4 linked regions of the Homo sapiens genome follow. The protein of the gene in region 1 purifies or fractionates together with the protein of each later gene. This does not show direct contact. Each region holds a gene or a part of one and is shown on either strand. Other genes may lie near its edges.

Evidence for each region.
Region 2: the proteins of TEX13A (region 1) and CNOT9 purify together in Homo sapiens (affinity purification with mass spectrometry; 2 studies listed by BioGRID and IntAct, with this or other methods). This does not show direct contact.
Region 3: the proteins of TEX13A (region 1) and ASPM purify together in Homo sapiens (affinity purification with mass spectrometry; 2 studies listed by BioGRID and IntAct, with this or other methods). This does not show direct contact.
Region 4: the proteins of TEX13A (region 1) and BTG3 purify together in Homo sapiens (affinity purification with mass spectrometry; 2 studies listed by BioGRID and IntAct, with this or other methods). This does not show direct contact.

The regions. Positions count from the first base shown.
Region 1 is NC_000023.11:105,218,429-105,222,096, forward strand, and holds TEX13A (testis-expressed protein 13A), read right to left. Parts: upstream 2,267-3,668; 5' UTR 2,167-2,266; intron 2,002-2,166; 5' UTR 1,970-2,001; coding exon 1,535-1,969; intron 1,331-1,534; coding exon 536-1,330; 3' UTR 501-535; downstream 1-500. UniProt on the Homo sapiens protein: Binds to ssRNA containing the consensus sequence 5'-AGGUAA-3'. Plays a role in transcriptional repression. Required for rapid sperm motility and timely degradation of mRNA via its interaction with CNOT1.
Region 2 is NC_000002.12:218,595,210-218,597,580, forward strand, and holds the end of CNOT9 (CCR4-NOT transcription complex subunit 9), read left to right. Parts: 3' UTR 1-1,871; downstream 1,872-2,371. UniProt on the Homo sapiens protein: Component of the CCR4-NOT complex which is one of the major cellular mRNA deadenylases and is linked to various cellular processes including bulk mRNA degradation, miRNA-mediated repression, translational repression during translational initiation and general transcription regulation.
Region 3 is NC_000001.11:197,098,170-197,101,669, reverse strand, and holds part of ASPM (abnormal spindle-like microcephaly-associated protein), read left to right. Parts: coding exon 1-1,239; intron 1,240-3,500. UniProt on the Homo sapiens protein: Involved in mitotic spindle regulation and coordination of mitotic processes.
Region 4 is NC_000021.9:17,593,153-17,595,901, reverse strand, and holds the end of BTG3 (protein BTG3), read left to right. Parts: intron 1-1,569; coding exon 1,570-1,809; 3' UTR 1,810-2,249; downstream 2,250-2,749. UniProt on the Homo sapiens protein: Overexpression impairs serum-induced cell cycle progression from the G0/G1 to S phase.

The DNA.
Region 1 (3,668 bases):
AATCGGCCTCTCTGTTCAGAGTGTCTAGCATGAAAAATCCATTTGGCTCTGGATGGGCCAAATATCCACTCCTGCTCCAATCATCTAAGGCCTAGATGCGAGTAGAGGGTGGGGTGTTATACACATGGTTGCCTCTTTTACCAGACACTAGGGCAGGGAGAGAGCGAGCGAGACATACACAAATAAAAGCTGCAGCACTTCTGGGGTATTGAGTGCAAGTGCTCTGGAATACAAAGGGGGTCACCAAAACATGTCTGTCTCCATGTGTCTCTCTCTCCCCACCCCAATCTATACCTCCCCTGGCCACCACCCCACTTCTACACCTCTTTCACAACCCCTACTTTCCTCCCCCTCCTCCAGTCACCACCCCTATCTCTGAAGTTATTCGTAAAGGTACCATTGTCTCACCTCCTTCCCCCACTCTTCCCAGCCTTCTTCCCCTACCACCCCGGCCCCCGCCACCACAAGCCTGCCCTCTGAAAATTAATTCGCCATCGAGATATACATGCTTCGGTTCTATTTTGCATTTCTGCACTCAATGAGGTTTTTGCAGCCAGATTCCCTTCCCACAGTCGAAGCAAGTATCCCTCCGTGAAAAATTCACAGCGTTACACCAAGGGCAGTCCCAGTCCCCTGGCCTGCGATATACTGGAGGTCTTTGCTGATGAGGTTCGGAGTATCTCCTGTCTCTTGGGTGCTCCTGATGGTCTATTCTGTGGGGCCCCCCATCAGACCACAGGCTAGTATCAAAGGCCTCCCAGTCGGAAGGCAGCTGAGGCGGAACTGGTGCTGTGACTGTTGCTTGTGGAGGGGATATAGTGGGTATGTCTGAGAAGGAGGAAAAAGGGCTTGAGTATGAGTATGAGTATGAGGCAGGGAGCTGGACAGGAAGAGGTTCTGATGAGGCTCTGGACCAGGGGTTCGTGGTTCCAGAGAAATAAGATGTGGCTGTTTCGACCGACCGGAGATCTCCCTCCTTCTGCCCCCAATAGGTGTACTTTTCCTGATCAGCATCTCCAAGGAGCTGCAGGAGGATTCTCTCCAGCTTCTCTGTGGTCTCCATGGAGGCAGCCCTGGCCTCCACGTGGGGGAACTGGGTCTCCATGGGGGCAGCCCCAGCCTCCACAGGGGGAGCCATGGCCTCCACAGGGGCAGCCACAACCTCCACATCCCTCTGCTCTTCTTCTGCTCCTTTTCCTCCAGCAGCACCAGCAGCAGCCACCGCCGCCTCTTCTTCCTCCTCAGCTGCTCCTTCTGTGCAAACCCCTCCGGCAGTGGCCAGGCCTGGCCACCCTGCCCCCTGCTCCCACTCATGGGGAGACACCAGCTCCTGGAGAGAAGTGGGCAGGGCTGAGGTGTGTTCTGGGGGCAAGGCGGGAGCACTAAGCAGGGTAGGACGGAGCTACCAGGTGGGAAGGGCGGGGCAGGGCGAAGCCATGGAGCAGGGTGGAGAGGGGTGGGAATGGGGCAGGGCAGTGGTACTGGGCAGGGACCAGTTGAGGGATCTTACTGCATGGAGCGGCTTCCAACTCACCTTGTCTCTCTCTTTCTGCACCTCCACGAGGCTGGTCTGGGCCATTCTTAGCCGGGAGGCCGCCTCCTTGCGTTCCGTCTCCTGCTGCTCCCTGAGCTTCTTCAGGTCTGATGCCAAGGCCTGTGCGGCTGATTTGTGCAGTTTGGCGAAGCCGTGCAGCCACCGCACCCTGTGCCTTTGTAGCTGTGCCTGCCTGTGGGCAAAGCGCACTCCCAAGGCCAGGCTGCCCCAGGTGCAGGCCTCTTTGACCTCACTGGGCACCTCGCTGTCCTCCAGTATGGCCCTCAGCTTGTCTTCCACCTTCTCCCAGGATAAGGATATATTCTCAAGATAGAACTCGGGGCCTTTCGTGTGCCTGGCCATTTTCTCGTTGATGAAGGCCACCACGTTGCTATGCCGGAACCCGCTACTGGGGTCCTCAGGTCTCAAGGCCATGATCGCCTAGGGGTTTAACGGTTTCACTAGCCCTGTGTGGATGGAGCAGCCAATAGGTTCCTTTCCTCCCCCTTAGCCCCTCCCCTCATCCATCTTCTCCCGCCCTCTTGTCCCCGCCCTACCCGCTCTGACAAGACCGTCCTAATGACCCCCTGACCGGCTTGTCCTACCCTAGGACACCTCCCACCAGGCCTCACCTCTTCAGCCAGGGCCAGAGGAAGTACAGGCCAACCCCGCTGTCTTAACACGCCCGAAGAGAGAGGAAGATCTCTCTCCCTCCTAAGGTTCCAGGGAAAGGAAGACTCAGGGCCAACGTCGGCTTTTACTCTGGGACTGTTCCAATTTCCAGAGATACCAGGAGTGGAAGGGAGTGAGTGAGGAAGGCCCCTGCCACTCCATTGGGATTTAAGGGAACCTGTCACATGGTTGGGAGCCCTTAAAGGTCGGAAGAAACAGGAGTGGTCAGAAAAGACTTAGAACCAAGAAAATTAAGCCCTTATAATCAAGTCAAAAAAGTCCCATGTATCCCTCCCTCTTGACAATGGTTTGTCCCATGCCAACGGCTAGTAGGGACCCCCCTAGAGGTTGAAGGGGGAATAATGGGTATGTTCTAGAACACGAAAAAGCCCCCAACCCATGAAAATTCTGCAGTTCATTTTCCAGACTCCTAAATCCTAGTATACAGGTTAGTGACCTTTTTCTGAAACGGGCAAGATAGCAGGCATTTGAGGCTTTGTGGGCAAAAGATTATCCCAACTACTTGTAGCACAAAAGCAGCCATAAATAATACCTGAAGAAATGACCATGGCCATGTTCTAATAAAAGTTCATTTATAAAACCAGGCAGTTGGCATGATTTGGCCTGTAGATGTCAAACTCCCAATCTAGATTCACATTTCATACATGTCCTACAGACACATACAATCAGAATGTTCATGATATGACTCCCCCTTTTCCCTGTTAAAAGAAAAACGTTAGACAACGTTAACAGTTTGTTTACACATAAACAACAACCAAAAAAAAAAAAAAAGAAAAACGAGTCATGAATTTGTCAGTACTCAGAACCAGAAGAGTTTCAGAGAGCTATTCCCAGCAACATGAGAAGTGAATTTTTATAGGCTGAGTTTGGACACAAAAGAGAAAAATCACCTGATTGGCTACAGCAAGGCATTTGCCTTATTTGGACATGGTCTTGTCACTTGACTGCCTGTAATTAGCTGGAGCCTGGCTAGTTGTGTTTGGCTGAAATTAGGCTGTCTTTTATACAGCTTATGTTAAGTTTCAGTCTGTTTACATGCTAAGTTAGTTTGCGGTTTGTTAGATAGGAACTCAAAGTATGGAAACAGCTTCAAACTAATGGCCTCTTGCTTATTTTAATATATGCAGGAGATGATTCCCCTCCTAAATTCCTATGTTGTCCAATACAGAAACCTCAAAATCAAATTTTTAAGTTACCTACCCTTCATACCGACCCTTAAAAACAAGTCAACTAAGAGACAAAATCTTGTTGCTGTGACCTCAGAAACTTCTAAGACATCCATGCCCACTTAGGGAATGTCCATGTTTCTTCTCAAATAATCTTCCTGTCTTTAATTTCTTCATAATCCCTAATCACTTCCTAATCTTTCCTATGATCATGTTTCTCTTAAGCTTAAAATCATTTGATGGATCCTTGTGGCACACTCCTTGTCCTGACATTA
Region 2 (2,371 bases), on another chromosome or scaffold:
TCAAAGATATTTTCTCAATAACTCTAAAAGGGAGGTGCTTGGGATTAAGGTGACAGTCCACTTGATCCTTTTCTTTGTTTTAGTGTGAATTTCAGCAGCTCCATCTGTCTTCATGATTGTACTTGAGCAGTATTAGCTGTATGAGTTAATTTTATTCAGATTGAAGATGGAGGGCTGGGTTCTGCTCACTCAGTCTTTTTTTTTTTTTTTTTTTTTTTTTTTTGACCATTCTCTTTTAGTCTATGGGAATTACAGGGTTGCCGCTAAAATATTCACTTGTTCATATCGTGTCAGAGATTTCCTCTTCTCTGGAGCTTAGGTGGCTCTTCACAATCCATAGGCTTGAATCTGCAACCTAGTGTAAACTGCCTTGCTTTCCCCGGTTCTTTCCCCTGCTAGCACCTGCTTTCTCATCCCTATCTCCAGTCAAAGATGGGATTGCTTAATCCAACTCTGGAGAGGGACCAAGTCTTTTCTGCCCACATCTCACACAATTGAGGTGTCTGAACAAGCTTGGGGAGGGTCTATAAGGGGTAGGCTCAAAAAAAAAAAAACCCATTTGCAGAGGCAGTTTTGCCAACACAAGGGCTCTTTCAAGCCGACTTTCACAAAGAGAGCCGGACTTGTTAGTTGGCTTCTGTCTCTTTAGAGCCAAGAAAATAGTAATTAAGTGGCCTAGATATAGGAAGGGCAGAATAAGCACTTACTCCCCCTGCCTTCCAAGATGAAGAGGAGAAGCAGGCCAACCCTCAATAATTGCAAGCCTGAAGAGAAGTGATCTTAGAGAAAGCAGAGAACAGAATGGACTGGATAGACATCTTGACTCTATTCAGCCCGTAGTCTGTGATCTGGAGAGTCCAGTTAAGGTAACCCAGATTTTTGACAACCGCCTTCCTGCTGAGCCAAAGTTTTCTCATTACCCCTCCACTGGGGAAGCAGCTGAGGCCCAGGGCCTTGCTCCCTGGGAAATTCTCTTCTCTCCATCTTTCGGTGCATTGGCCATGTTACTGTGCCAAAGTGTCTTAATTCTTGTCCCATCTATTCTCAGCTGGCCTTGGAACCCACATAGGAGTTGGTGGGGGAGGGATGGAATGGGTATTATTCATTGTAGTTGATCCTGGTGTGTGTATTATATAAAGAGACCCCTCCCCTTATTTTGTGTTTTCCATCCCTCTCCCTTAACAGGATTGAAATAAAACATGCTTCTGTTTTTGTAAAAATAATTTTTCCTTTACACTGGAGATTTTATTCTATCAGTATATGGGTAACTAGGCACTTTGGTCAGGTGATCCTTGTCATGCCTGCTTCTCCCCTCTGTCTACCTACACAACACACACACACACACACACACAGCCCTGCTAAGATGGCAGTAGTGGTTCTTTTGTGAACATGTTTTTTGGGGAGACTCCATCTGAGGTACAAAAGCTGTTTGGGAGGCTGGGAGGGGGATGATGCCCCTTACCTGATAAAAGTATGTTTTACTGGGACAGAACTTCACTCCTGGCCATATTGGCCAGAACTTAGTGCCAGTGTAGGGAGAGACTTCCATAGTGACAAGGTAATGCTTGAAACATCTTACGAACTTTGATGTTCATTTCCTCAAGTTCAAGGCTTGGAGCACATCTCCAGGATTGTTTCCATGCCTGGCTGTCAGTGGGACACAGCTGCCCTATGCTTCCACGTTCTTTTTTCAAGAGCCTTAGAGGGCCTGTGGCCTGTTTCACTGGTGGAACAGGAGCAGCATTGGTAGCCTTCAGAGCATGCCTTGCTTACTAACTACATATTATTCCTCTGCTCATTGTTCCTGCTGCTTAAAGGCTAGGAAAAGGGGGATATACAAAGTTGTTGCTTTCAAAAACTCAGAGAAAAAATTTGGAATAGGAAACCTTAGAATGAAATTATATTTTTCTTTCCTGATACATTATGGAATTTAATTTTTGGAAAAATATTTTCATATGTTTATTTCAAAAGCAGATATAACAAATAGAAAATTTGTTGGTTTGTTTTGTTTTGTTTTTGGGAATTGGAGTTTCGGTCTTGTTTCCCAAGCTGGAGTGCAGTGGCATAATCTCAGCTCACTGCAACATCTGCCTCACAGGTTTAAGCAATTCTCCTGCCTCAGCCTCCTGGGTATCTGGGATTACAGCCGCCCGCTGCCACATCCTGCTAATTTTTGTATTTTTAGTAGAGACGGGGTTTCGCCGTGTTGGCCAGGCTGGTCTCGAACTCCTGGCCTAAGGTGATCCGCCAGCCTCAGCCTCCCAAAGTGCTGGGATTACAGGCATGAGCCACTGTGCCTGGCCAACAAGCAGAAAATTTGAATAACAATTAACATACCTGGCTTAAATGACATTCATAGAACACTGCACTC
Region 3 (3,500 bases), on another chromosome or scaffold:
ATCAGACAATGGCATTCTGCTGTGGTTATTCAGGCTGCATATAAAGGAATGAAAGCAAGACAACTTTTAAGGGAAAAACACAAAGCTTCTATCGTAATACAAAGCACCTACAGAATGTATAGGCAGTATTGTTTCTACCAAAAGCTTCAGTGGGCTACAAAAATCATACAAGAAAAATATAGAGCAAATAAAAAGAAACAGAAAGTATTTCAACACAATGAACTTAAGAAAGAGACTTGTGTTCAGGCAGGTTTTCAGGACATGAACATAAAAAAACAGATTCAGGAACAGCACCAGGCTGCCATTATTATTCAGAAGCATTGTAAAGCCTTTAAAATAAGGAAGCATTATCTCCACCTTAGAGCAACAGTAGTTTCTATTCAAAGAAGATACAGAAAACTAACTGCAGTGCGTACCCAAGCAGTTATTTGTATACAGTCTTATTACAGAGGCTTTAAAGTACGAAAGGATATTCAAAATATGCACCGGGCTGCCACACTAATTCAGTCATTCTATCGAATGCACAGGGCCAAAGTTGATTATGAAACAAAGAAAACTGCAATTGTGGTTATACAGAATTATTATAGGTTGTATGTTAGAGTAAAAACAGAAAGAAAAAACTTTTTAGCAGTTCAGAAATCTGTACGAACTATTCAGGCTGCTTTTAGAGGCATGAAAGTTAGACAAAAATTGAAAAATGTATCAGAGGAAAAGATGGCAGCCATTGTTAACCAATCTGCACTCTGCTGTTACAGAAGTAAAACTCAGTATGAAGCTGTTCAAAGTGAAGGTGTTATGATTCAAGAGTGGTATAAAGCTTCTGGCCTTGCTTGTTCACAGGAAGCAGAGTATCATTCTCAAAGTAGGGCTGCAGTAACAATTCAAAAAGCTTTTTGTAGAATGGTCACAAGAAAACTGGAAACACAGAAATGTGCTGCCCTACGGATTCAGTTCTTCCTTCAGATGGCTGTGTATCGGAGAAGATTTGTTCAGCAGAAAAGAGCTGCTATCACTTTACAGCATTATTTTAGGACGTGGCAAACCAGAAAACAGTTTTTACTATATAGAAAAGCAGCAGTGGTTTTACAAAATCACTACAGAGCATTTCTGTCTGCAAAACATCAAAGACAAGTCTATTTACAGATCAGAAGCAGTGTTATCATTATTCAAGCTAGAAGTAAAGGATTTATACAGAAACGGAAGTTTCAGGAAATTAAAAATAGCACCATAAAAATTCAGGTATTTCTATATTTAATTTAAATATAAAACTGTGAGTCTTTCTTTTGACCAATATTTGTTAGAATGTATAAAATGAGCTTAAGCAGGTCATAAAGAATAGTACTTAGTTGAGGTGACCATTTATCTTCCAAAGTGGAACATTTTTGAAAGAGGGAAAGGGCACTAGTAAGTCAGCCAAGACAGCACAGAACGGGGATTGTTCTGGCCATGGTCACCCTATGTGTGGTGCATTTCAGTATGGGTTAATTGTAGCACTCTTAGAAGAATTTTGAGAAAATAGGAGTCCTGTATTTGGCAAAGTTATTTCTTTAAGTGGAAAATATAAGCTAAGATAAAGTATTATTTGGCATAATATAGGCAAAATAGAGTAACTTTGTTCCTCTAATAATCTATTAACCAGAGCTGTTTGCTGCTTAGGCTAGTAGACATACTTTATTCTGAGTGTTTAGTACTTTGGCTTCCAAATCAATTTTGTATTATTTTGTTTTGTCTATTTGCCAAATGTGTGAGGAATGTACAGTATTATCTCTTTTAAAATATGAAGGAAGTGATAAAGTTTAAGTAATTTGGCCAATGTTGCATAGAGAGAGGCAGATCCAGGAACTGAATCTAAGTACTTCAGCTATTTCTTTTTACCTGCAATAACCCAGGCTTTAACCCAGATGTGATATGTTCATATCTTACTGGATTACTGTTAAATTTAGAAATAATGTTTTAATTCAAGAAATGTCAAGTGCTAGAAATGTGCCAAATGCTGTAGTGGGTGTTATAAATAGACAATGAGTAAGATATACTTAGTTGCTGTCCTCAAGGAACTTAATTGAACAAGGAAGTATAATTATAATACAACATGAGAAGTGTATGTTTCAGGAAACACAGAATGGGAAATCAAGCTAGTCTCCATGGTCAGAGACTTCCCAGAGTGAGTAACATTTAAGTTGAAATGTTACACTGAAGTATGAATTAGAAATAGCCCAGTAAAAGGTATAGAAGAATATTCCAATTGCAAGAGATAACGTGGAAAAATCAAAAAACTAGAAACAATAAAAAGTGATATGGGACCAGGTTGGCAATAGAGGGAGTAAGATTGTGGATAGATTTTTAAGACAGAAAAAATTTAGTCTTTATGCTCCAGACAAAACAAATTCTAGAGGAGTTTAAGCAGGAGAAGACCACAGTCATTTTTATTAAAAAAAAAAAAAAAATTACTCTGGCAGGAATGTGGAAGATGGACTGGAAAAGGAGCAAGACTAGAATCAGGTAGACCAAATGAAAATAGGCAGTAAGCCAGGTGAGAAAGAGTTATAGTTCAGTGTAGGTTTGTGACAATGGGATTGTAAGTTGGCATTATATAGAGCATGAACAAGGAGGCAAGCCATGTTGATGGCTTAAGTAACTCAGCAGAGTTACTCCCTCACACCCTGACATAGGGAATAAAGAGGGAAGAGCAGGTTTTGAGATTGATGATGAATTCAGTTTGGAGTATATAAGATCTGAAGTACCTAGCAGGTAACCCCCTTGAAATATCTAGTAAGGCAGTTGACTATGTTTGTCTGGAGTTCAGGAGAGTAGTGTGAGTATTAGAATTTGATTTGTACATTATGGGCATATGCTAATAATTAAAGTTCTGGGAATAATGAGATCACCAAGGAACAATACATAAAATGAGTGAACAAAGAGGGCCTGGGACTTGAGCCCTGAAGAACATCAAAATTCACAGACATTGACAAGAGAAGCCAACAAGGTGTTAAGAGGGAAAGAAGAAAGGTAAGAGATTAATGGTATCAAGAAACCAAGGTGTTAAGAGGGAAAGAAGAAAGGTAAGAGATTATGGTATCAAATTCCTAACACTACTGAGAAGTTCACAATTGAAAGGTGTTCATTGGATGTATTAGTTATGGTTTTATTCACTTAAAATGATTAAATAGCCAAAATAACAATCTTATAAAAATTTTTTTCTCTTACATAATTACATAATAAAATTGTATTTTACACATATAATTTTTAGCCTATGCCAGTGGTCTAAAACTTTACTGCATATTGGAGTCACCTGGAATTTTAAAACATACTCCTACCTTTAGATATTCTAATTGGTATGGGAAGCAACACAAGCGTGGGATTTGTTTCAAAGCTCCCAGGTGACTCTAATGAGCAGCGAAGTTTGGGAGCCACTGGGATATAGTATACATTACTAAATACTTACATATATATGTAAATATGTATGTTTTATATATATATATATATCAACTTCTCTGTAGCAT
Region 4 (2,749 bases), on another chromosome or scaffold:
CTTGCTAGTCATGTAAAATAGTACCACTACTTTGGAAAACTGGAACTTTTTAACGTTAAATGTGTAACTCTTCTATTACTCAGCAGTTCCACTCCTAAGTATTAAATATTTACCAAAAGAAACGAAAATATGCCTATAAAGCCTTCTATTAGAATTAACTGTGCTGTTATTCATTGCAGCATTGTTTTGTTCGTTGTGTATCATTGTTTTTTTAATAGTAAGAGACTGAAAACAGCCTCAATGTCCCATTACTAGGAGACCATTTAATTTATAGTCATTGCTATACTATCTAGCTGTAGAAAAATGAGAAGGATCTTTATGTATTGATATGTTTCTGAAATGTATTATTATGAAATGTAAAAAGCAGGATACAATCCAGTATACATATATATTTTTAAAGTGTGTATAGATGTGGATAGAATATCTCTAAAGGTATATTTAAAAAAATGTTTGGTGTCAGTTGCCCTTGAGAAGGGTTAAGATAAAGAAGATAAAGGGTGAGATAAAAAAAGAGGGACTTTCCACAGTTTACCCTTTTGTACTTTTTGAATTTTCTATCATGAATGCAATGCTATACACAATATAATTTTTTTAAAAAAATCCTATACTTAGAAATGCAGATTTGAGATCAGCAAAATCAGAAATTTAAGAAGATGTGGCATTCTAAGCAGAGAGGTCTAAAACTGCTGATAAGAACACTTTGAATAATGTGAACCTGACGTGCCCACCTGATTTATGGGATAATCTAAAACTATTATTCCCAAATACTAAACTGGCTACATCAGAATCACCTGGGGAGCTTTGTCAAAATACCTGGCCTCTAGTTCTGAGATTTTATTATTGTTCATTAGACCAGTGCTAGGGCATGAATGTTTTGTGTTTATCTTTTTTTTTTTTTAACTTTTATTTTAGGTTTAGGGATACACATGAAGGTTTGTTCCATAGGTAAACATGTGTCACAGGGATTTGTTGTACATATTATTTCATCACCCAGGTGTGAAGCCCAGTACTCAATAGTTATCTTTTCTGCTCCTTTTCCTTCTCCCACCCTCCCCTCTCAAATAGACTCCAATGTCTATTGTTTCCTTCTTTGTGTTCATAAGTTCTTATCATTACCTCCCACTTATAAGTGAGAACATGCGGTAGTTGATTTTCTGTTTCTGCATTAGTTTGCTAAGGATAATGGCCTCCAGCTCCAATGTTTTGTATTTAAAAGCCTCCAAGTGACTCCTGGCTTAGCCAGCTGTGGAAACCACTGGACTAAAACAAGCATGTCCTTACAAGCTTCCATTCGTTCCATGTTTTGGTCTTTTTTGGTTGAAGTTGTTTAGGAAGTACTGTGTTTGAGTTTATTCATTTCTTTATGCATTCAGAAAACATTGGTCACCTGTTATACATTATACGCCTATTACACATGAGGTTTTTAATGTATTTAGACCTGACAATAGGAGTGTCACTTAGATGTGATCTCAGTGTTGTGGGTAACTTTGTTTGTCTTTAATGAGAAATCTGGAACATAGATGATGATTTTTTCCTTTGAATTAACTTAATGTGTTCTCTTCCCTACAGATTTCAGAACTTATATTTCCACCTCTTCCAATGTGGCACCCTTTGCCCAGAAAAAAGCCAGGAATGTATCGAGGGAATGGCCATCAGAATCACTATCCTCCTCCTGTTCCATTTGGTTATCCAAATCAGGGAAGAAAAAATAAACCATATCGCCCAATTCCAGTGACATGGGTACCTCCTCCTGGAATGCATTGTGACCGGAATCACTGGATTAATCCTCACATGTTAGCACCTCACTAACTTCGTTTTTGATTGTGTTGGTGTCATGTTGAGAAAAAGGTAGAATAAACCTTACTACACATTAAAAGTTAAAAGTTCTTACTAATAGTAGTGAAGTTAGATGGGCCAAACCATCAAACTTATTTTTATAGAAGTTATTGAGAATAATCTTTCTTAAAAAATATATGCACTTTAGATATTGATATAGTTTGAGAAATTTTATTAAAGTTAGTCAAGTGCCTAAGTTTTTAATATTGGACTTGAGTATTTATATATTGTGCATCAACTCTGTTGGATACGAGAACACTGTAGAAGTGGACGATTTGTTCTAGCACCTTTGAGAATTTACTTTATGGAGCGTATGTAAGTTATTTATATACAAGGAAATCTATTTTATGTCGTTGTTTAAGAGAATTGTGTGAAATCATGTAGTTGCAAATAAAAAATAGTTTGAGGCATGACAACGCGTGTTTCTGTTGTGTGCATAAAAGGGGAAAAGAACGGGTATTTCCCTTCAATGTATTTAACTAAATAGCAAAAACATTAAACAGAACGTAAGAATTTTAAAATTTCCTTTGAAAAATCAACTATTAACCATACTTTTCCTAAAAGACCACATATCAGAATATGCATATGAAAAGTTAAAAATTTGTTAGTGGTAGTTATTGAAAATATAATAAAACATCTTTTAACTATCAGTGTCACTATACATAGGGTTTTTTAACAAAGAATTTGGCTCGTACTAATTTTGACATGACATCTGACTTACATGTCTAATGCCATTGCATAAAGTAGATGTGTTCTTACAGCTGCTCTAATCTCTGTGCCTTGTGCTTTTTTTAAAAAACATTTAAGTCTTTACTAGAGGCCTAAAATAAAGTCAAATAATACAATACTTCAGATTCTTCAGTAGTCCATATTTATACAACTGTAATTCCATCAGTCTTGTAAGGGTACTTGA